Linked DNA regions of Homo sapiens: regions 2 and 3 are each linked to region 1. The links come from fine-mapping of genetic effects on gene expression. A gene starts in region 1. Each other region holds a variant in brackets. All regions are shown on one strand. Distances are between the middles of the regions.

Region 1 (8,315 bases):
ATAAAACTTTTTCTTTCTTTTTTTTTTTTTTTTTTTGTAGTGGTGGAGTTTCACTATGTTGCCCAGGCTGGTCTTCAACTCCTGGCCTTGAACTCAAGGCAGGAATCCTCCCACCTCAGCTTCCCAAAGTGCTGGGATTACAGGCAATATTTTCTTTTTTAATATTAGAGACTTCATACTAGAATTCTGTTTCTGGTTGCTTTGTCCCACGAGGTGTCACCGGGCTGTACAACATCTCTTCTGGCTGGAATAAGAAGGATAGAACACAGAATTTTCTTCTTGGAGAAATGTCTTCCTGGGTAGGTCATTTGGGGGTAACCCACTGGGAAACCGGTTTTATTCTGTACCTCCTCACCATGCCCATATGGGGGCTGAGTGCATGGGTGTGAATTGCTGGGTGGAAATCTGGTAATAAGGGTGCCACCCTGATGATGAGGACAGAGCAGGAGGCCAGCAAAGAGATGATGATAGAAATCTCTGGGCATGGGGTGGAGAAATGTAATCGCCAGTATGGAAAGGGTGGCAATAGCTGTAAAACTGGTCCCCTCCACCTTCCCCAGTGATTCCATCTCCTCCTGAGCTCTTACTCTTGCAATTGTATCCTCTCTGACACATATTTAATCTCTCATCTGTACTGGTTCCTTCCTCTCATCCTCCAGTAGACACAAATTTACCCTTTCTCCCCAAAGAGCTTCCCTAATATTTACCTCCCTCTCAACTCATTACGATGTGGCTTCTGCCCACCCTTCCCTTCCACTAAAACTGCCCTCTCTAAGGTTGCCTGTAACCCAGTTGCCAAAACCAATCTTACTTGACTTTCTGCAGCTTTTAATTCAATTCACTGTCCTCTCCTTGCCTTCCTGGGATTCCAGGACATAACTCCCCGGGTCTCCTACTTCGCTGACTGATCTTTCTATTTCTGCTGGCTCCTCTGTCTTCACCCATACTTTAAACATTATCATTTTCAGAGCTAATACTACTCCCATATGGCATCCTTATAAGAAGTTGTGAAAGGGGCCAGGCGTGGTGGCTCATGCCTTTAATTCCAGCACTTTGGGAGGCCGAGGTGGGCAGATCACGAGGTCAGGGGTTCAAGACCGGCCTGGCCAACATGGTGAAACCCCGTCTCTCCTAAAAATACAAAAATTAGCCGGGTATGGTGGTGCGTGCCTGTAATCCCAGCTACTCAGGATGCTGAGGCAGGCAAATTGCTTGAACCCAGGAGGTGGAGGTTGCAGTGAGCCGAGATTATGCCACTGCACCCCAGCCTGGGTGACAGAGTGAGACTCATCTCAAAAAAAAAAAAAAAGTAGTGAAAGGTACATCATACTCTGTGCACAGCCTGGGCCAGGGTGCATGGCTTGGCAAGCAGAGCCTGGACTGCATTTTAGTCCCTACTCACCACACTCAGCCTGGTGCCCTTGTGCCATGAACACCCTGTGCAACTGCACATTGCAGCCCAGGGCACTATCTGTGGTCTTCATCTCTTTATTGCTCTATCCTCTTTCCCTCTGTAACCCTGCTGACTTTCATTGTTCCACCTCGAACCTATGTGTCTCATCTAATCTCTAGACATCTTTTCATCTACGTCCTGAACTTCTCTTCCTGGGTGTCCTGTGGGGCATCCTAATTTTGCTATGGCCCAAACTCAGTTCAGATCTGCACACTTGCAAATATGCAAATATGCCTATTTTTCTGTATGCCCTCTCTTGGTTAATGACACCACCTTCCATCTTCTTATTCCGCTGAAAACTTCAAGATTATCAATGCCTCTTCCCTTTCCGCAATGTAAGGCTTTTGTCCTCTCCCAAGTTCACTACTGGAAGAACCTTCTAACCAGTTTCCCTATCTCCAGAGCCCCTCCCCTCCAAATTACTCTCCCCACTGCCACCAGGTTTCTTTTTTTACACAGACTTGAGCATATTTTTCCTTTGTTTCAAAACCCATTTTGTCTTCTAATTAACCATAAGATAAAGTCCAGATGCTCAGGCATTGAACATAAAACCCTTTATATCTTGGCCCAAACCTACAAAACTTTTCCAGTCCTACACCTTGCCTCTGCTCCCAAAACATGCCTTGCTCTTAGCCACATCCGATTATGATGCACCCTTTCTTGAACATGATTTTATTCACTGCGCCTTCGCTGGTGCCTTGAATGCCCTTCTCCTGTTCTTTGACTTGTAAAAATCTCATCCACTCTTCAAGATCATGCTCTCTTGTCACTTCTATTTTCAGGCACCCTTTGGCCCTAATTGACAGTGCTCTCCTCATTGCTTCTACAGTCTACAGCACTATTGGTATGCTACTACAGATAGTCTAAAAGTTGTTTTGCATCTCTTTCCTACTACATTGAGTTTCTTAACGGCAAGATTAAGCTTTGTTCGTCTCTATGTCATCAGCAGTTTGTCCAGTGCCTAGTACATGTTAGATACTGAATAAAAATTTATGACTTGAATTGGGCAGGATGCTTGAACATCATTTTGTGAAAGGACCAGTGATTTCTTTCTGTATAATTTTCAGCCTCTTCTTTTTCAGATATTGAAAGAACCTCAGAATAGGATGGTTGATGGGCCCACTTAAGATAGTTGCTATGTTATAGCCCCAATTTTTAGCCGAGTCTCTCTAGGGACATAGAAACCGTGCTTTCTCAAATGACTGATTGGTGCCTGAGTATGGATTTTTCCAGATATCAGAGTTCCTTAGAACTGCGATGATTTTCAATCTAAGAAGACCTAGATTCTAGGTTACACACACACACACTCAACCTCATCGTTTTGAATAGCAGATACAGGGTTTCAGTGTTTTTGTTTTACTCTCTGTGGGTTCTATCCCAGCATCTTACTAAGGGCTGAGATTTCAGGGCATGAAACACGGAATCAACAAAAACAAGGTTTTTACAATCTCAAAACTTTGGGAAACTGTTGAGTTATCTTGAAAGCCTAGAGGGGGAGCATCAGTTAGTTTTGTAGAGAACTCGGCGAAACAATATTGATGCATACGGCTAGCCTCTGTCATCCTCCTGAGTTAAACCCAACGGGACATGCTGGACTATACAGGAGCCACTCGTGGACTCCGTGAAGACCAGATGGGTAGTGTTCTTGAAATGAGCAGATGTCTATTTGTAGAACTCTGGTAGTAGCTTTGGAGTGGGTGGGGAAGAGCTTGGTTCCCATTCCCCCTCAAAGACAATTATTTGCTTCTGATGAGAATCCAAGCAACAAGTTGCCATTGAGAATGCAGTGATTGGTCAGCAAACGAAGCCTATAGGAAGAGCCTTCGGGTGCATTCCTTGTGACATATCGACCCGTCCTAAGCCCGACGCTTAATTATGGGACCTCTCAGCTCCTCCCTCCCGCCTCGAGCTCCCTTTTGGCTTCTCACAAGGCTTCCTGGGGACGATTCCCCGATGCTAGAGTACTGGGGGTCTGGGCCCACAGGGAACCCGTCAGCCTCCCTCCTTGGAGCGGGCCTGATCCCGGGAGGGCGCCCGCGCGGCCCGGAGGCGGGAACCTAGGGGGAGAAGGCGCCGGCGCCGCCCTGGCGCGCAGACCATCTGTGCGGTCCTGCGCGGGGGCAGGCGCGGCCTCAGCCCCCGGGCGCTGGCGGACCCAGCGCGTCAGCTAGGCCGCCCCCGTCGGCCCTCCCCCGGGCGGGGCCAGCCCCGACGGCGCTGACTCAGCAACGCGAGGGGGGAGTTTTGTCCCTCCGCGGACCCCGTTTCTCCCAGCCTCAGCCTCCCCGCCGCCGCCGCCGCCGCCGCCGCCGAGCCGGTTTCCTTTTTCCGGCGCTCCGGGTGCGAGAGACAGGTCGGGCCCCCTAGGCAGCGAGCCGCAGCGCAATCCCGGCGCTCGCCCAAGGACCCTGGAAGCTACCGTTACCCCGCCGGGCAGCGTGGGCGCCATGAGCAGCTCGGGTGAGGTGCCGCCGTCCCCCGCCGCGGTCCTCTGGAGGAGCTCCGCGGTCCCCGTGAGGCCCGGCGGCGGGGAAGGCCGGGGGCTGGGACCCTTGGCGATGGCGGGGAGGGAGCTTTCGGGGCAGGCTGGATCGGCCTGGAGGGAGACAGCTCCTTGGAGGAGGATGCCGCTTATGGGTTTCCCCGCTGCAGCGGGCACCCCAGGATGCGCTTACGAAGTTAGATTCGGGACGCGGGAGCCCCAGATCAGCCCTTTCCCCCTCTTTTTGCGTTAAAATCCTGTTTGGTCTCCCAACAGGACTGAATTCGGAGAAGGTAGCTGCTCTGATACAGAAACTGAATTCCGACCCCCAGTTCGTACTTGCCCAGAATGTCGGGACCACCCACGACCTGCTGGACATCTGTCTGAAGCGGGCCACGGTGCAGCGCGCGCAGCATGTGTTCCAGCACGCCGTGCCCCAGGAGGGCAAGCCAATCACCAACCAGAAGAGCTCAGGTGTGGGCTTCCACTTCTCCCATACGTTCCTTGACCTTCCTGACAGCGTCCCATTTTGGTGTCTTATTTAAGAGTGGTCTTAAATTCGTACTGAAAGAACTGGTCGTAAATTCGTAAAGAATGAGGCACAGGTACAGGCAGGTCTAAGAACATTACCCATGTGGTTTGTTTTGCTGTTCTGTGGCTTGTTAGTACATGCGGTTAGAGTACAAAAGTGACATGTCCATGAGTATACGTTTGAGTGTAATTGACTATATTATGTTCCAATGCTGTGTGGTTTGTAGCCCGTGTCTTGGAGATGTATGGTCTTGGTCACAAAACAGAACATGTGAAAATGTTCATATCTTTGGAGGACTCCCCAGAAATGCCCTGAAGGCCCTATACTATGAAATAGAAAAGATACAATGTAATTACATTAAAATGTCATCAGATGTTACTTTTAAATATGCTTCTTGGTTACAACTGAAGCTAATGTGCTGATGGGCTCAGTTCCCACCAGTAGATCAGTTTGTAATACAGAAAAAAGTTCTGTTCTCATGCCTTGCTGGTCAAGAAGTCTCGTTTTGCTATCTGCTTTCTAGCACCACTCTCAGAAAAAACAGGTATAGTGAAAGATTGGATATCCAGCAATCTAAATAAGGAGCACATTCTCACAACAAAATTGTACTAAACGGATTTTTTAAAGTCTTTCTATACTTAAAAACGACCCCCCAGTCTATCTATACGGACAGGAAGCACATCAGTGCTTGTTTAGAGTCGGTTAGAACTCACAAAGCACACATTTAACGTGAGTACATTTTATTGTATGTACATTATACCTGAATAAAGTTGATTTTTTAAATGTTAAGGAAAAAGTCAAGACCTTACAATAATTAATGTTTTGCTTTAGAAGAAAGTGCTTGGAGTGGTGTGGGCTCTCAGGCTACAGATGATCCAGTTAGTAATGTCACAGTGGTCCTACATAGTTTAGATTGCAGTGACCCGTTAGGGAACAGGTCAGGTCTTACACATTTTGCAGTGTCACTTTTACATACAAAAGATCCAAATAGCATGTGAGTTGTGTAGTTTATTTTCATGCAGTTTTCACATCACCAGTGCATCCAGATCCCCTCTACTAGAAATATATAGCATATAGAAGAGAGGTGACATACAGGTAAATGTAAGGTAAAGACGAACTAATAGGCACTAGTGACTTTCATAAAACACTATAGTTAACTAGAGTTTTCTTCTTGTTACAAAATTATTTTTGTTTAATGTAGAATATTTGTAAATACCAAGTAAATATTTTTCTTGTATATTTGTCAAGTTTTGTGTGTGTGTGTGTGTTTAATAGTGTTTAATATGCATTGATACCTTATACATTGTTATGTAAGCTACCTATCTTTTTCACTTACCAATATATTATAAACATATTTTCATATTAGTAAAAAGGTTATACCCAATACAAGTCAAAGTTTTTCCCTCAGAATTTTCCCTCAGAAAAGAGATAATTTCCCTGTATTTAAGACCTTAAAAGACTTTTCTAATGGCGCTCTCAGTTAATTTATTTTGAAGTAGAGTACAATTTGGAGAAGGCATTACTCTGAAAAATGGATTCTTTATTTGATACGTAAAGAGTGTTTTTGTGTTAAAGATATTAAACCTTTGCATATATATTGCTAATAATAATTACCACCTTTCTTGTTTTGTTTTTAATCTTTCTGCTCTTTCTGATTTACTCTTTCTGAATTGTCCAGATCGTGTCATGAGTTCATTGGTGGGAAATACAGTTGGAGCAGTGCAGTCTATGTGAACCCTCATAATTTCTTGATGTGCTTTCTTGTTTCAGGGCGATGCTGGATCTTTTCTTGTCTGAATGTTATGAGGCTTCCATTCATGAAAAAGTTAAATATTGAAGAATTTGAGTTTAGCCAATCTTACCTGTTTTTTTGGGACAAGGTATGGGACAGATCTGGCAAGATTCTTTTTGTATTGATATCAGCCTTGGTAGGGACTGCCTCTTCTTTTGTAGCTTTTCCAGTTATAGCCTGCCCTTTCATAATAGGTGAGACACCTTTTATTCTGACTTCCAGAGTATCAAAAGTTGACTCTTTCAAAGGCAGAACTGTTTTTGGTTGGTAGGTGGCCATTTTTTTGCAATGAAATAAGTTTACTGACTCATCTTACTGCTTGCTTGTCTATTTAAAATTTTAAATTTTATATTCAATATTCAATTCAATATATCTCCCTTTTTAACATCTTTTTAGGTTATTTGTTCTTTTCTAGGACCTAATTTCCCTCTCAAGAACTTGTCTGAAAAACAGTAAATAATTTTATTTGATTGTTTATTTGTTTATTTATTTTTTTGAGACAGTCTCACCCTGCCACCCGGGCTAGAGGGCTGTGGCACAGTCTCGGCTCACTGTAACCTCTGCCTCCTGGGTTCAAGCCATCCTCTCAACTCAGCCTCCCAAGTAGCTGGAATCACAGGCACATGCCACCATGCCCAGCTAATTTTTGTATTTTTAGTAGAGACAGGGCATTTCACCGTGTTGGTCAGACTGGTCTCGAACTCCTGACCTCAAGTGATCTGCCTGCCTTGGCCTCCCAAAGTGCTGGGATCACAGGTGTGAGCCACCACTCCTGGCCATATTCCATTTCCTAATCTTCAAAATGTATATTACTGACCTGGTTTGGTGGCTCATGCCTGTAATCCCAGCACTTTGGGAGGCTGAGGTGAGAGGATTGCTTGAGCCCAGGAATTTGAGACCAGTCTGGACCTGGCGAAACCCCATCTCTACAAAAAATACAAAAATTAGCCACGCGTGGTGCACACCTGTCCTCCCAGCTACTCAGGAGGCTGAGGTAGGAGGATTGCTTGAGCTCAGGAGGTTGAGGCTGCAGTGAGATTGCACCACTGCACTCCAGCCTAGGCAACAGAGCATGACCCTGTCTAAAAATAAATAAGTAAATAAAATATATATTACATAGGTGTTCATTAAATGTTTTGTTTTAGCATTGGAATGTAAACACTGTACACATATACACAATATATTGGGATACATACACAGGTAAAAGAAGAAACTTCAGATATTCTGATGAAGTCAGATACTGATGTTTATTTACCAATTTTAGTTTAAAAATACTTATTATGGTGCTTGTTTCAGCATCGTAAGTCCCCAAACTGGGGTGATACAGAAAAGATTAGCATGGCCTCTGTACAAGGATGACATGCAAATTCATGAAGGTTTCATGTTTTTAAAAAGAAAAAAAACTATTATGTTGATTCCATGGTAATTCCAAGACTCCCATTCTGTTGATAATGCCAATAAAATTATTGACACTTTTTTCTTTTAATGTTATTTAACTTTCTTTACTCTTTAGGTTGAACGCTGTTATTTCTTCTTGAGTGCTTTTGTGGACACAGCCCAGAGAAAGGAGCCTGAGGATGGGAGGCTGGTGCAGTTTTTGCTTATGAACCCTGCAAATGATGGTGGCCAATGGGATATGCTTGTTAATATTGTTGGTAAAAGTTCTTTCTTTAATGGAACTGAAACTCAGCATGATTAAGTAAGCCTGTAGTTAGGCATGGGCCAATTCTTTGGTGGTTGTGTACAGAGTAGAATTGGTCTCCAAGAAGGATATATAGTTATTTCTAAGGACCTTTAGTTCACATTCTCACCTATAAAGTGCCTTCTTAAATGAGGATTAAGGAGAGAGCTACTGTGAAGGATGGGTTGGAGAAGAAAAGGTAGTATTAAGGAGAACTAATTTTCCATGAAAAAATTGTTTTCTTCTCCATTGATGTAATCAGGAAACACATTAAAACTGTAGCTGTGTTAAAATGTCTTCAAAACATCTTTTGGGGAAATCTCATCATGCTGAGCACTTTACAAAAGTATGATAGATACACTTGAGCTTGACCAA
Region 2 (8,315 bases), 100 kb before region 1:
AGCCAACTCGTGACTCCAAGCAAATATTCTGTTTTGGAGTATTGTTTTACCTTTTTGCTTTCCTTTTAAATTAGGCAGCACTCAGATTTTAAAAGAGAAAATAAAGGGAAGAAAAAGCCTCAACCAGGTCTTTAATGTGCAAGATCAGGTAAGACCAAAAGCACTTTACTAATGCACATTTGATTATCAACTGTACCTTTAAAATATGATCAGGCTGAGAATTAATATCTGAATTGTTGGCATTCCTTAAGGAAAACATCCCAGTACGAAATGCATTCACTTTAGAGGTAAAAAAAAAAAAAAAAAAAAAGCACCCATCTGTTCATTTATATATATGTTCTGGTTGAACTTCTAGCTCCACGCAATTAAATTATGCCAGAAAACACTATTAATTCAATTTTCAAAATCATCTACACTGCCATATGCTTTCCAAATGTCTCAAAACTTCTAAATCTCTTTCTCATCTTGACCTCTCTCCCAAGCTCTAGAACCTATTCCCTAACTGCCCATTGGGTACTTGTGACTAGTACATCAAGTACTATTAATATTTCCAGTTTTCACTCCTCTTTCACCTGAACGAACACACACACACACACACACACACATACACACATGCTCACTCGCTTGCTGTCTCCCAATCCCCACCATCCAATTAGTTTTTCCCACTCCCATTCTTTCTAATCCAAGCTCAAAATCCTCAAAGTCATATCTTTGACATCCTCTCTTTGACATTCTGTTCTGCTATTTAAACGATGGTCAATTCTGCAGTTCTTCTTGCATAACTTCTTATATATGTATCTTATACTCCCTTTTCATTCCCCTACATGCCCTCTAGGTAAAGCCCTTATCTCCAAAGAGACCTCATCCCAGATGACTGTAAACACCTCTCTAGTTTTCCCTCCTCTAGGACTCTTTCCTGCCAATACATTTTGCACAAAGATAACTCCAAAACGAATAGCACTACACTGTCCTTATCATCAAAGAATTCACACACTAACAGGAAACAAAAAAACTATTAACAACATAAGTGGATAAGTATTATACTGATGGTACTGTATAAACAAAAAGCTCTCGAAGGTAGGATAGTGACAGTTATTATAGGAGAGGTTTCAGAAGAGGTTACAGCTAAACTGGTGAAAAGCACTTCAGACAGAGGATAGCCTAACATGTGAAGGTTCACATTTGGGAAGGACAAGTAGTCCGGTGGCAGAGGAGAGGTAGGAGCTGAGGCTAAACTTATAGGCTTGAGTCAGACTGTGGGATCTTCGCTCCCATGCTAAGAAGTATTAGACTTGATCCTATGAACCCTGTATTATAAGCTTTTTTTTTTCTTTTTTTTTTGACACGGGTCTTCCCCTGTCAAAAAAAAAAAAAAAAAAAAAAAAAAAAAGGCTGGAGTGCAGTGGTGCAATCATAGCTCACTGCAGCCTCACATTCCTGAGCTCAAACTATCTTGCTGCCTCAGCCCCTCAGCCTCCCAAGTAGCTGGGACTACAGGGGTGCATCACCATGCCCCACTAATTTTTGTATTTTTTAAGAGATGAGGTCTCACCAGTTGCCCAGGTCTTAAACTCCTGGCCTCAAGCAATCCTCCTACTTCAGCCTCCCAAAGTGCTGGGATTACAAGTGTGCTCCACTGCTCCTGGGCCTATTTTACCTGTGTATCTTTGTTGTTTAGTTTTTAATATATAATCTTAAAAACAAAGTAACACAAGCGCTAACAGAACCAGATGCATCTTCCCTAAGCGTGACAGCTGGTTTCTTAGTCATCCACACCTCAAATTAGTAAACAGACTCTGCAGGAAAATTAGATATAAGGACAGTATTCTGTACGCGTTCATTAGGTCAGATTGGTTTATTTATGTTATTCAAATCCACTGTATCCTTACTCACATTTTTGTGATCTAACAGTTATGATCTCTATGACCTACTAGTTCTGAAAGAGGCCTATTTTAAACTTCCTACTATATTTATGGATTTGTCTGTTTCTTAATATCAGATATTGTATTTTTATAGTTACATACTGTTCATCTTATTCCTTTTTGTTTTAGATTACAATTTTCTGGTGTTACTGGGTTAATTCATAATATCCTATTTAATGACACAGAAAATACTCCTCAAAAATAAGCTTTCTGGTCCATTTCTGGACCAAATCTAAACTTTCAACAGCATTGTTGAAAACAGGTGGGTAATTATTTTCCCCATGCTCTTCCTTTTCCATCAACAATCTACTTCCAGCCAAACATACTTCAATATTTAAAGCACACTGCTACTGCTCAGTCTGACCTCCAGTTTGGGGAAAGAATAGTTGTCTGCATGATAAAAGGAGTTGATATTCACACAAAAAACTGAATTGGTTACATTATATGCTTTCTGGCCACATTTCATAACTCTGTCCATTGTATAAAAGGAGAGGGAAGAAAATTTGATAAATCCAAAGAACAGTTTATTCTTCTTCCAGAGGAGAAAACAATCATAATTACTAGTTTGAAAAGGCTCAGCCTCAAGTTTATAGTGGCTTAAGAAGACAAATATAAAGCTTTATGGCAGCTGTCCTAACTAATAATAGAATCCATAGACTCACATGAGCAATACATAGGCCTGACAACTATATTTCTGACCAATTTCCTAACTCAACACTCATTCGTATTTTAGGGAAAGCAATCTAAAAGTAGAACATCTGAGATAAATATCTGTGGCCCAGTCCTCACTGCAAATAACTGAAACATATAAACAAGTTGGGAGGAAAAACCCAAATAATAAGTTATCACACACAACTTGTAAGGTGTTTTGTTCCTACTTAGAATTTGAAAATAAATGAATTCTACCACAGGGTGATCAAGAATAGTGTTTTTTCAAACTGAAGGTCATCATGCATTAGTGGGTTGTGAGATATATTAGTGGGTTCAGACATATTTTTTAAAGAATGATATAGAACAAACTAAAAGAAATAATACCAGAATGTATAGTAAAAGTATTGTTCCATGAAATTTTTTAATGTACACACATATATATGAAATGTACATACACAACTAAAAGGTATTTCATATTATAGGTTAAAAGTAAGAAAAAAAAGTTCAAATAATACTGATCTAGGATCTACCAGTAAGGCAAGCTTATTTACTCAGAGTAGGAGCAAAACTAGGAAGAATATTTTTATAAATTGTTATAAGATTAACTAAAGATCTAAGATTTTAGGCCGGGCGCAGTGGCTCATGCCTGTAATCCTAGCACTTTGGGAGGCCGAGGCGAGCAGATCACCTGAGGTCAGGAGTTAGAGAGCAGCCTGGTCAACATGGTGAAACCCCGTCTCTACTAAAAATACAAAAATTAGCCAGGCGTAGTGGTGCATGCTTGTAACACCAGCTAACTGGGAGGCTGAGGCAGGAGAATCGCTGGAACCTGGGAGGCAGAGGCTGCAGTGAGCCGAGATTGCGCCACTTCACTCCGGCCTGGGTGACAGAGTGAGACTTTGTCTCCAAAAAAAAAAAAAAAAAAGATTATCCAAAGATCAAATAACTATGTATTTATGTTTCGGATGGCAAAAATTCATTTATTCCAAAAAGACTATTATTTACCTTATATATACCAGGCATGGTTGTGTGTGCTAGAAATAGAAAATGGAATAAAACAAAGTCCCTATCTTCAAGAGTAAGTTTAAACTCTAGTAGATATAAGTAGCCATGGCACCAGATGCTAGGCTAAAGTGCTTTACACACATTCTCACTTGAGCCTCCTAATCTTGTGAGTAGATAGTATTTATCTTAATTTTATATAAGTGGGAATTGAGGCTTAGAGAAATTCATTAATTTGTCTCTCACCCACACCACACACACACACGCACACAGCTAGTCAAGGCAGAGTTGTGATTCCAACCTAAGGCAACGGGATTCCAAAGCTCTCTCTTTGCCACTACATTGCACTGCCTTCTACTGTTCTTCTATCTGCAAGAAAATAAAATATAACAATGTTCTGCCCAAGAAAACTTCTAAAAGTTACATAAAACTATGATCTTTGATCAAATAATTTCAACTATACGTTGCCTGCCCTTCCTTAAATTGTATAATTTGAAAGAAGGCAATTCTTTTTTGTCTGTTTGTTTTCTTGGAGACAGGGTCTCATTATTTTGCCCAGGCTGGGCTTGAACTCAAGATCCTCCCGCCTTGGCCTCCCAAGTATCTG[C/T]GACTACAAGCACACGCCATGGCTTAAAAGTTGACCTAAAACTACAGTTCAGTTTTTATTAAATCTGCTTTGGAATAAACATACCAAAACATCATATGATTTTTACAATGTCTTCAAAACTGTGAAGAAAGAACGGTAGGCAAATGGCATACAAATCAGCGCACTGTGATTAAAAAAAAAAAAAAAAAAAAAGGCGGCCAGGCACGGTAGCTCAGGCCTGTAATCCCAGCACTTTGGGAGGGCGAGGCAGGTGGATCACTTGAGGTCTGGAATTCAAGACCAGCTTGACCAACATGGTAAAACCCTGTTTCTACTAAAAATACAAAAATTAGCCGGGCATGGTGGTACATGCCCGTAACCTCAGCTACTCAGGAGACTGAGGCACTAGAATCGCTTGAACCCAAGAGGCAGAGGTTGCAGTGAGCTGAGATTGTGCCATTGCACTCCACCCTGGGCAACAAGAGCGAAACTCCATCTCAAAAAAAAAAAAAGGCATCTTACTCCATGAACAAGTCCAGAGTAGGTCTCACAATAACGAGGCTTTGGAAGGGGATGTGGCTATTCATCAGCCTTATTAGGATAGCCATTTCCTAAATGGATCCTGAGGTTTGTGAGACATGTTGAATGAAGCAAGGCTCACCCACATAGGCAGCTAGATATGCTGGGCCAGCCCTGGCAATGAAGGCAAAGGCACTAGGGCCCAAATCACCCCAGATTCCACACTACTAATATACTATCTGATTCCTCAGAGCAGGAGTTGTTTCTGTTTTGCTCTCACTGTATACCGGTACATCACCTAATACAGTATATGTGGCACGGCAGGAACTCAGTAAATATTTGCTATATTAATACATTATATTGCACAAGTTAGTTCCTCTCTCAGGCCTTGATTTTCTCTAAAACAAAAGGGTTGGACTAAATCAATATATTCACTTTCAGCTCTAAAGGTCTATACTTCTTTAAGCTAGAATTCCTAAATATATCACATAGAACATCAGTAAAATTACTCGGCTGAGCATGTGGCTCCCGTTTATAATCCCAGCACTTTGGGAGGCCAAGGTGGGCAGATCACTTGAGGCCAGGAATTCAAGACCAGCCTGGTCAACATGGTAAAACCCTGTCTCTACTTAAAATACAAAAAATTAGCCAGCATGGTGGCACACACCTGCAATCCCAGCTGCTCAAGAGGCTGAGGCACGGGAATCATCTGAACCCAGGAGGCAGAGGTTGCAGTGAGCTGAGATCACGCCTGCACTCCAGCCTGGGCAACACAGCAAGACTCTGTCTCAAAAAAAAAAAAAAAATTACTCCAGGACATCCGGGTTTTTTGAATATATGCCTAGTCACAAGGTTTCACAACATCTTACTCACTAAACACAATGAATTCACCCTGTTGAAACTAAAACCATCACAGCCTCCTCTTCAAGGGGAAACTGCTCAATATTTGCTGAGGTACGAAGAGAAATAAGCCAGTTATTGTAGAAATAACATAGGACATATCCGACATTCAGCTGAAACAAGAGAAAAGTTGATGCTCATGAAAATAAAAATGACAGCAGCATAATGTAGCTTCTTCAGATGTCTGAATAATCAGAAAAATCTGATGATAACTAGCTTCACCAAATAATCTCTGGCCTTAATACCAAAGTACACCTACGTTTTGTAGAGGCCGGATATTTATTTTTTAAGTAGTATGAGATACATTTACCTTCCTCAATTAATTGTCAGTTAGAAATTACTTTCTAACCTTTTACAACTTTTTCCAAAAAGGCAAAGTTAAGTATTTACCCCATTATTTTAAGTAACATCATCTCAAATTAATGAAGCAACTTGACTAGATTACAAAACCACCAGTTCAAAGTTAGGTTTTATTAAATATATTTCCCAAGGACTGAAATGTAAAAATTACACATTAAAGTAAGTCCATTATCTACAAAAAAATTTTTAATGATTTTCAAATCACCTCTAATTGTTATGGGGAGAAGGTTTCACTTCTAAATAGTATGTCAAACCTCTTTTTGAATGCTTCTGATATACAAGAAACACTGGTAGAAACTATAGGAGGATCAGAAAATTCTAGAAAGTGATAGCAGCAGCAGGCCGGAAGGTGCGGGAAGGAGGCGGACAGCCACCCCTTCTGCAGCCACCCCCCACAGCCCGCTGCCACCCCCCAGAGCCCGCTGCCCTGGGGGCTGCCGTAATGGGGTCAGGCCCAGAGCAGCACAGCGGGGGAGTAATGTAGTCAGGCAGAGAGGAACCCCTATGCGGAGCTGGGGCTGTGCTTCGGGGGCGGGGCGGAAAGCAGGAGCTGCTCCAGCTTTGGGGATCTGGCCAGAAGTGCAGCCACTGCGCCCACCCCACTAAGGGTCCCGGGTTCCTGGGCTCGGGAGGAGGCTCTGCGCGGGCCACTTGGGGCCAAGTCCCCAGTGTCCGCCACACGTGGGGTGACCTCCCAGCCTGACACTCCTGACAGCCTGGCCCCAGGCCCGCAATCAGCTCCGGGCCACTCCTTAGCCCCAGGGCAACAGGGAAGCTTGTGGCAATGTCGCCCCTGGCCCAGACACTGGCCCAGGCCCAGCGAGGATTAGGAGCCACCCGCCACAGGCTCCCAGGGGGCACGGCTGGGGCTGCATGCTCCACTGAGTCGGCGGGAGCTGGGAGCTGGCAGCAGCTGCGTCCCCCGACCTCCTAGGCCCCCCTTACCCTTGCAGGCTTGGAGATGCCTGCTCCTGCTGCCTGGCCTCTCCCCATTCTTGCGTCTGCTCCTATCCGGGATTGGGGTTGGAGCTGAGGCGGCGCACTGTCACTGCCCGGAGGGGTACGCACATGCTTGGGCCCTGTTGCCTGGGCCCCCACCGGACTGGGCACTGACAAGCATGGAAGAGGGAACCAAGGTTGGGGACTGAGGGCGACTCAGCACTGGCTTGCAGGTGCCCCTTAGCACGAGCAGCCGGGGTGCCATGGAAAGCAGCAAGAGGCAGACTAGCTCCTGGGTATAAGGGAGGGGGTCCCTGGTGAGGCCCCACCTTCAGGCCAGGGAGGTCCTGAAGGCTGGGGGCCAGGCTGCCAGTCCCATAGACTGGAGTGGGGACTTGTGCCTTTTCCAGGCTGCCCGTGGCGCCCATGAACCAATCGGCATACACTTCCTCCCCTCTGAGGTCCATAAAAGCCCTGGGCTCAGTCAGAGCAAGGCAGAGGATGGAGAGATGATGGGACAACCAGAGGGTAGCTCCTCTCTGCTGAAAGCTGAAGCTGAACACTCATCAGGATGACCTGCCTGTAGAGAGGGGCCACCCACTCCAGGGTTCCTTTGTGCTGAGGGCTGAACACTTGACTGGGTGACCTGCCTACAGAGAGGAGATGCCCACTGCCGGTCTCCTCTGAGCTCAATAAAGCTCCTCTTTGTCTTGCTCACCCTCCACTTGTCTGCATACCTCATTCTTCCTGGATGCAGGACAAGAACTTGGGCAAAGGCACCACCAGGCACAGAGGTTTCCAACCAGAAAAGCAATACCCCAAAGATCCAGTAACGAAAGTATTAAATTCTCAAACTTATGACCCATTTTGGGTACATATGGCTTGATATAAAAAGTAAAAGAGTAATTCAAAGGTTTAAATATACATTAAGAGACATGTCATAAGACACTTTATAATGTGACTGCCAATAAAAAGGTAAGGAAGACCTAAGGCATTTCATCATGGGCAGACTCCTAGAAAAGAAAAAATTTACACTGATGACATTTCCATTGGTTGACTTATTCCTTCTAAGTTCCCTCTACATCTACATCTGTGCATAAAAACAAAAACGTTATTATTCAAAGCATACCTAAAGTTTAAAAAGAGTAATAGCTGTTTTCATAGCATTTAAAGAGAAAAGGTAAACAGTTCAAGCTTGTATTAACAATTCTTGCCAGGCACGGTGGCTCATACATAATTCCAGCACTTTGGGAGGCTGAGACAGGTAGATCACTCGAGGTCAGGAGTTCGAGACCAGCCTGGCCAACATGATGGAACCCTATCTCTACTAAAAATACAAAAAATTAGCTGGGCCTGGTGGCAGGCACCTGTAATCCCAGCTACTTGGGAGGCTGAGGCTGGAGAATCACTTGAAGCCAGGAGGCGGAGGTTACAGT
Region 3 (8,315 bases), 32 kb before region 1:
GTGCGGTGGTAGGCACCTGTAATCTCAGCTACTCAGGAGGCTGAGGCAGGAGAATTGCTTGAACTCAAGAAGCAGAGGTTGCAATGAGCTGAGATGCCACCACTGCACTCCAGCCTGGGCAACAGTGTGAGACCCATCTCAAAAAAAAAAAAAAAAGATTTTCATTAGGGAATCTTTAAACATCACCTTAAAATCAAAAAAGGTGAAGCTTTTCAATGATTGGGTTCCAGGTATTGGTAACCCATTGGTAGAACTGTATAGGCTTAGGGGACTGTCAAGTGATACAATGTAGATGATCACATGGGTTGTTGGGTGAAAAGCTGGTTCTGCATGAGAATGGTGTGGATGGTATGGCAATGGGTGAGGTATAATGATGCAGTATGATTTGGTAGAAAGACCCTATCTCTACAAACATAACATAGTGAGACCCTATTTCTACCAAAAAAAAAAATAAGGTGTGTTTTTAATTAGCTGGGCATGGTGGCACACATCTGTAGCCCCAGCTGCTCGGGAGGCTGAGGCTACAGGATCTTCTGAGCCCAGAAGTTTGAGGCTTCAGCGAGCTGTGATTGCGCCACTGCATTTCAACCTGGGCAACAGAGTGAGACCCTGTCTCAAAAAAAATAAAATAAAATAAAATAAAATAAAAAGCCAGCTAAGGAAACTAAGGCCCGGACTAGGGGCTCAAATCATAGGTGCAGCTGAGAATAAAACACTAATTCCCAAGCTTCTAACCTAGTGCTTAAGTGCTTATTCCACGAAACTTTTTTTTTTTTTGAGACAGGGTCTCACTCTGTCACCTACACTGGAGTGCAGTGGCACAATCTCAGCTCACTATAACCTCTGCCTCCCAGGCTCAAGTGATCTGCCTGCCTCAGCCTTCCAAGTAGCTGGGACTACAGGCGTGCACCACCAGGCCGAGCTGATTTTTGTATTTTTTGTAGAGACGGGGTTTTGCTATGTTGCCCAGGCTGATGGAACCCTCTTAAGGGAGACATGGCAGAAATGCCAACAATGTGATTTGATGACTTAAAGAAATTGTTTTCAGTTTTCTAGCCTCAATCCACTGTTTAAATTCTGTTTATAACAATCTCCTAAATATCATTGTTGCTAAGTGTGTGTGTGTGTGTGTGTGTGTGTGTGTGTGTATAGTTAATTGCTCAGTAATCCATAATGACAGTACTGACACAAAGTCATCAACCAATAAATCAAAATGAGCTCATAAAATGTGACAAGGATATTATGTACCCTTCAAAGGCAGGACCATTATTGTTATAAATAGCAGAATCAAGAACTAAATGGAAGCTTGATAATACACTGTTTGGGGGAGAATGTGGAGAAACAGGTCCTCTCATACCTCGTTGCTGAAAGTTTAAATTGAGAACACCTCTTTCAAAATACTTATCAAAATTTAAAGTGTGCATATCTTACGACACACCATTTCTCCTTCTAGATGTTAACGTTGGAGAAATACATGTACAGGATCATAAAGAGATATGTACAAGGATGTTTATTGTAGCATTGTTTAACATTTTAAAATGAAAACAACCTAAAGCCCATCAAAACACAAATGATTAAAGGCATACATTATACTATAGCATTCTAAAAGCAATAAGCTAGATCTCTGTGGTTCAATATAAACATATCTCAAAAACATGCAAGTTACTGAGAGAAAGGAAGTATTTTATGTAAAACCTTCCCATGTCCCTAAAATAATATGATATATTTCCTATGGGTACACTATATGTATAGAAAACTATTTAAGAAAAAAGAAAGATAGGGAAGGATTTACACCAAACTCATAACAGTGGGTATCTCTGGGGATCAGGAAGTGACCAGCTTGGATCTTAGCTTTATCTAAAATGTACTAATTTTTACAGAGGGGATATTCACATATACTGATATGCTTAAATTAATTTCAAATAGTTAAATAGAAAGAAATCACTAACAGAATCTGTCCACAAATGGAATTGTTCCATTTGGCAATTATGTTCTCTATTCCAGCAGCTTCCTTCCTATCTGAATACCATATAACATCCTTGTTGGATATGATACAGAATTCGAGCTCATTCCAAAGAGCAACAAAATGTCATTCTTCTGAGAGAGTTATTAATAACACAGCCTACTCAGGGTCTAATTATTCAGTGTGCAGATTATACAAGCTCCTTTTTCCTCCTTCTCCGTCTCTATCTTTTTCCTAGTTCCCACTCTCCAACCATTTCATTACTATTCTGCACTTCTGCCAGAATATGCACAGTGATAGATGTGTTGACTGTCTATGGGTCTACAACTGCCCTTATTGTAGAGGAAAAAAGGAGTTGCTCACACACAGGGATGAGAGGGACTCACTTGCCTTCCACAGATGCCAGAGTTCTCATGCTTAGAACACCTTCTGGGAGGAGGACATTATTTCTAGAGCACCACTGAGAAAACGCAAAGATGCATTGGTGAATATGTTACCAAGGCAATGGTTCGATAAAATGCAAAAACAGACGGTGAGAGTAACCCTCAAAACCACCACCACCGTAATAATAATAGCGGCTAGCACTGTGGCAAATTCTTTACAGGGATTATTTTATTTAATCTTTACAGCATCTCAGGAGATGTATGATTATCCCATTTTTTTTTTACATGAGAAACAGAGGCCTTAGCAGTTAGTTAACTGTCTCAAAGTCACAGTAAACGGTGTAGATGGAATTAGATCTAATTGCAATGTATGTCTTCTTAATTTTGTACTGTTTTGTGCAACACTAGCACAGGTTGGTTTATTAATTCTCAGAGAAGAAAGACTCAAGGCTTATACTCTTGGGTAGTGTTACAAATTGTCTGCTTGTCATAGATCATTACTATATATATCATGCTCATAATCATATATTGTTTCATGGTTTGTCTTCTTCATCACATTAAAAGTTCTATGAGATTTGGAACTGGAAGTGTTATTTGCCCTTGTTACCCCAGTGCTTGTCACACCGTACGTATTTAATAAATTTTTGTCAAATGAATAAATGACCACATGAGATAGATTGAAGGAAGACTTTGAACTCTGACAGTGAACTATTGCTTATCTGCTAATTAAATCTAAATGCTTGAGTCTTGCAGTTCCTCCTCTCCTAAGTGGAAACGACTTCCAAACAGTTGAGGAAGGCAGTAATGTGAAGTTGGTTTGCAATGTGAAAGCCAACCCCCAGGCTCAAATGATGTGGTACAAAAACAGTAGTCTCCTCGATTTAGAGAAAAGCCGTCACCAAATCCAACAGACAAGTGAGTCTTTTCAGCTGTCAATCACCAAAGTCGAGAAGCCTGACAACGGAACCTACAGTTGTATTGCAAAGTCATCTCTGAAAACGGAGAGCTTGGACTTTCACCTGATTGTTAAAGGTAATGCTCTTTTTAAGTAATACCCAGCACAGTGCAAAACTCACACCAGATGCTCAGTGAATATTTCTGGTGACAATAAATGATAATAACGGTTATGATTAGGGCCAGGATTTTCTTTGGAGAATCATCCCCATCCAAGGATTTTTCCACTAAGAATCCTAGTCCATCCTTTCAGGGAAATCATGCCCATTCCATACAGGACACTGTTTTTTGAGCAAGAATCCTTTCTTAGAACCAAATATAGGAAACAATCCTGCTTGGCTTTTAGGGAAGAGTATTTCCATGAATTCTCCTGGGCAACAATGTGTGTAGCAACTGGACTTTTGAGTTCACAGCTTCATAACTAACAGAAGTAAAAAACACACAGAGAAGAGAAATTAGGACTAGATAAGAAAATGGATCCCTACAATCACTCCTAACTCAAATTCTAACCTGTAGGGTAATCAGCAGAGAGAGTAGGAAAAAATAAGGGGACAAAAAAGCCCTTTCTCTTGGATTCATGCTTCATCTACCCAGGGTTATCACCTCTACAATGACAGAACAAATGATGCTCTGTGGGGTTTTCCCTCCTCATATTTCTTGCTCATACAAAAAGAGAAAGGCAAAATACCTGGGGTAGCAGATGCCAAAAATGCTCATTCACACATGGTCTGCTCTCATGCTAGCACACCAGGAGCAGCCCAACAAGCTGAGACTCCCATATCTTGTTAGAACATTACTCACTTTGTCATTTGCCTCCCTGTACTCACTTATTGCCAGTCTTGTCAGTCACCAGGAAGCCAGCTGAACCCCTGCCAGAAGTGTTGTGGTGATGTAACCATAGGACATCTTATTTGCTTCCCCTTGAGGGGAAGAGTTATGGGATATGAAAAGAGTGGCTAGTGGGGAAGAAGACTTACTGGTGGTTGAATGCCCATCACTGTGATTCCTGGAATGATCAGTAATTCGTCCTGCGGAGCACTAACAATTGCTCAGGGGCTACTTGTTTTAAAAACCAAACCCACAAATATCCTGAATACCCATGAGATAGAAGCAGTGAAAAAGCTTTGTGGTTATTTACCTCCCCCAAGACCACAAAAGCATGGAAGGGTGGGCCTCATGCCCTGCCATCCTGACTATGAACACCACACTTGCAGGCCAGGGAATTATATCCCTCCTGGTTAAGAAGAAATCATAATTGCTCTGTGTCACATTAAAAAAAAGTACAGCTTATGTGGCAATCAGGATGCTAGCTTAGCAAATTGGCTTTCAGGTGGGCAGAAACTTGTTTTGGGTGGGGCTCTTCCAAACCAACTTGTTTTTCTTATTTCTTCTTGCTTAGCTACTTCCCACGGCTGGTGGCATAAATGCTCTGCTGCTGGGGCTTGGGCTAAATGCCAAGATTTTCATGAGCCCTCACCTGGCTTCACGGCTCAGTGAGGAAGTACCTAAATGAGGCCATGCAAAGCTACAAACGACATCACAGATCTTTTCTTGAGCACAAGATTTAGCCCATGTGTTGGGATTATTTAACCATGATGAATATAGGAGGGAAATATCAGGTCTGGTTACAAATGAGACCATAAAACAGGACAAGGGGAGAGGGGCAGTTATGTAATTACCCTTGCCAAAGTCTCTTTTTTCTTTCTTTTTCTTTTATTTTTTTGGAGACAGGGTCTCGCTCTGCCACCCAGGCTGGAGTGCAGTAGCGTAATCATAGTTCACTGCAGCCTCATCCCCCCAGGCTCAAGCGATCTTTCCACTTCAGCCTCCTGAATAGCTGGGACAGGTGCGTGCCATCAGAACCAGCTAATCAAAAAAATTGTTTTTGTAGAGA[G/T]GAGGTCTTGCCATGTGGATCAGGCTGGTCTTGAATTCCTGGGCTCAAGCAATCTGCCACCTCAGCTTCCCAAAGTGCTGGGGTTACAGGCATGAACCACCATGCCCCGACCAAAGTCACTTTCAACAGAAATTTGGAATCCAAAGCAAGCCAATGGGTAAGGTAGTTTACTTCGGTTTGTGTATAGAATAAGAGCTGTCAGCCAGGTGCAGCGGCTCACGCCTGTAATCCCAGCATTTTGGGAGGCCGAGGCGGGTGGATCAGGAGGTCAGCGGTTTGAGACCAGCCTGACCAATATGGTGAAACCCGTCTCTACTAAAAATACAAAAAAAATTAGCCGGGCATGATGGTAGCCACCTGTAATCCCAGCTACCTGGGAGGCTGAGGCAGGAGAATTGCTTGAAACCAGAAGGCAGAGGTTGCAGTGAGCCGAGATCGCACCACTGCGCTCCAGCCTGGGCAACAAGAGTGAAACTCTGTCTCAAAAAATAAATAAATAAAAATAAAAAAATAGAGTAAGAGCTGTCACATGTGGCTTCATTTTATCTGGCTTGGTAAAAATATTCCAACCTGTGACTGAATTCTGATTTCTTTTTCTTATTGTCCCACCTTTACTTCCCCTTTGTTTTGATATCTTGCAAATAGAGGGGCTCCCCAGTAAGGTTGACGGGCCTTTGGTGTGTCCCAGAGCTGGCTAGTACAGAACCAGGGCTTACTAGAAAAAGGCTCCCTGAGCAAAGTTTCTCCATAGGGGTGATATGACCCATACCTTCATGAGAATAATTTTTAGAAACAGCTAAGAGAGGGCAAAAATTTAATCCATTTATTTCCCAAAATTATCCAGAGCAGGAAATGATAAAAAGGTAGTTACAGGCTGGGTGGGATGGTTCATGCTTGTAATCCCAGGACTTTGGGAGACCGAGCGGGAGGGTTGCTTGAGCCCAGGAGTTCCAAAACAGCCTGGGCAACATATTGGAACCCTGTCTCTACATCAAATCAAAAAATTAACTGGGTGTGGTGGCACGCACTGGTAGTCTTGACTACTCAGGAGGCTGAAGTAGGAGGATCTCTTAAGCCCTAGAGGTCGACGCTGCAGTGAGCCATGATCATGCCACTGCACTCCAGTCTGAGTGACAGAGTGAGACCCTGTCTCCAAAAATAATTATAATAATAACTGGTTAGTGTGTTATACAGTTATGGGGACAGGGGAGATAAACCCTATTTCATAATCTTAAGGTATATAGGGATTGGGCTTTGAAATTAAATTTACCTAAAGTCACTTCTTCCCCTCTTCCCTGGTTTTTGCCCTTCACTTGCTAACTCATGACCCTGTTTCCTTTCTAATACTTAATCTGTAGTGTCTGTTTGTTTAATGTCTGTCTCCCTCACTAGAAGATGAGCTCCACGAAGGCAGAGGAGCCTTCTACACCTGTCCTATTTTTTGCAGTGCTGAACACAGTGCATAACACACATTAGTCACTCAGTAAATATTTGTTGACTGCACCTCAATCCATAAACTCAATTGTGCGATAAATAGCACATGCTCAATTTCCTTTAAATGCCTAAAATGTTACTTAAGCCATGACTGAAGCTCCTTCCCGTCGTTGGATGGCATCAGAATCCAGGGGCTTAGACAAGGTCACTTTAAAACCTTTGTTGAACTGAAGCACTTTTACTTTGTTACTTTTTTAAGAAACGGGGTCCTGCCAGGTGCAGTGGCTGATGCCTGTAATTGCAACACTTTGGGAGGCCCAGGTAGGAGAATTGCTTGTGGTCAGGAGTTCAAGACCAGCCTGGGCAACATACCCAGGCTCCATCTCTAAAAAAAAAAAAAAAGGGGTTGGCCAGGCATGGTGGCTCACACCTATAATCCCAGCACTTTAGGAGGCCAAGGCAGGCAGATCACTTAATGTCAGGAGTTCGAGGCCAGACTGGCCAACATGGCGAAACACTGTCTCTACCTAAAATACAAAAATTATCTGGGCATGGTGGTGTACACCTGTAGTACCAGCTACTTGGGAGGCTGAGACAGGAGAATCGCTTGAACCCAGGAGACAGAGGTTGCAGTGAGCCGAGATCAAGCCACTGCACTCCAGCCTGGGCGGCAGAGCGAGATTCTGTCTTAAAAAAGAAAAAAAGGGTCTCACTATGTTGCCTAGGGTAGAGAGCAGTGGCTATTGATAGGTGCAATCATAGGGTGCTATAGCCCTGAACTCCTGGGCTTAAGCAATCCTCCTGCCCCAGCCTCCCAAGTGTCTGGGACTACGGATATGCCACGCTGCCTGGCTTTCACTTTTACTTTTGAGAGTTTCATTCCATATCATATCAAAGATATTAAAGCAAAGCACATTGTATGTGCTTTCTGCTATAAAATTTTTGAAAGAATTTTTATAACTTGTATAGATTTTGAATTTTGTTATAAATAAGTTACTCATTTGGTTCTTGAGGTTTAAACATTATTATTTAACAGTTCGGTTAGAGTTGATGCCAGGTTGCATTTTACAGATGCTTAAACATTGATTAATTTTGATTAATTTTGCTACTTTCTTTTCATATCTTGGGGCCAATCATTTTTTTCTGGGTCTCAAATATTTTCAAAGGCTCTTAGAAAGCTTGCAAACACAGGCACTATGCCTATAGTGACTGATAAATAAAGTAGCTCTTGGCCCGGTGCGGTGGCTCATACCTGTAATCCAAGCACTTAGGGAGGCCAAGGAAGGCGGATCACAAGGTCAGGAGATTGAGACCATCCTGGCTAACACAGTGAAACCCCGTCTCTACTAAAAATACAAAAATTATCTCGGTATGGTAGCACGTGCCTGTAATTGCAGCTACTCGGGAGGCTGAGGCAGGAGAATTACTTGAACCTGGGAGGCAGAGATTGCAGTGAGCCGAGATTGCACCACCGTACTCCAGCCTGGGCAACAGGAGCAAAACTCCGTCTCAAAAAAAAAAAAATAGCTCTCAGTTGACCTGGTGTTTAGAAAATAAAGGGGTAGGCTTTCACTTCCAAGCTGTCATGGTTGCTGCTGATCTCTTCCTAGTCCAAGTTAGAAGTAGGCTCTCTCTCTTTGCATGGCATTTAGAGAGATGCAGAAAACTTTGCCAAGGTTGGGAAGGC

What was found.
Region 2: its variant is fine-mapped to the expression of BLMH in whole blood (TOPMed, PIP 0.91).
Region 3: its variant is fine-mapped to the expression of BLMH in whole blood (INTERVAL, PIP 0.99).

Annotation. Positions count from the first base shown.
Region 1 is chr17:30,287,405-30,295,719 of GRCh38, reverse strand. It overlaps BLMH (bleomycin hydrolase), which reads left to right and starts at 3,776. Exons shown (of 12, transcript NM_000386.4): 1 at 3,776-3,913; 2 at 4,212-4,409; 3 at 6,238-6,347; 4 at 7,773-7,914. The coding sequence starts at 3,901. LOC124903971 (a long non-coding RNA gene) reads right to left here and starts at 1,030. Exons shown (of 2, transcript XR_007065700.1): 1 at 180-1,030. It also overlaps the pseudogene RNU6-1267P. RefSeq lists silencers at 3,366-3,775, 3,976-4,045 and an enhancer at 4,496-4,555.
Region 2 is chr17:30,387,192-30,395,506 of GRCh38, reverse strand. The region is part of intron 2 of CPD (carboxypeptidase D); the gene reads right to left. Among named protein-coding and RNA genes, the nearest start is that of CPD, 12 kb to the right of the region's middle. RefSeq lists a silencer at 742-1,036 and an enhancer at 6,795-7,480. The variant C/T (reference allele first, on the strand shown) is at 4,183.
Region 3 is chr17:30,319,879-30,328,193 of GRCh38, reverse strand. It overlaps TMIGD1 (transmembrane and immunoglobulin domain containing 1), which reads left to right. Exons shown (of 7, transcript NM_206832.3): 4 at 3,100-3,378. Among named protein-coding and RNA genes, the nearest start is that of TMIGD1, 10 kb to the left of the region's middle. The variant G/T (reference allele first, on the strand shown) is at 5,195.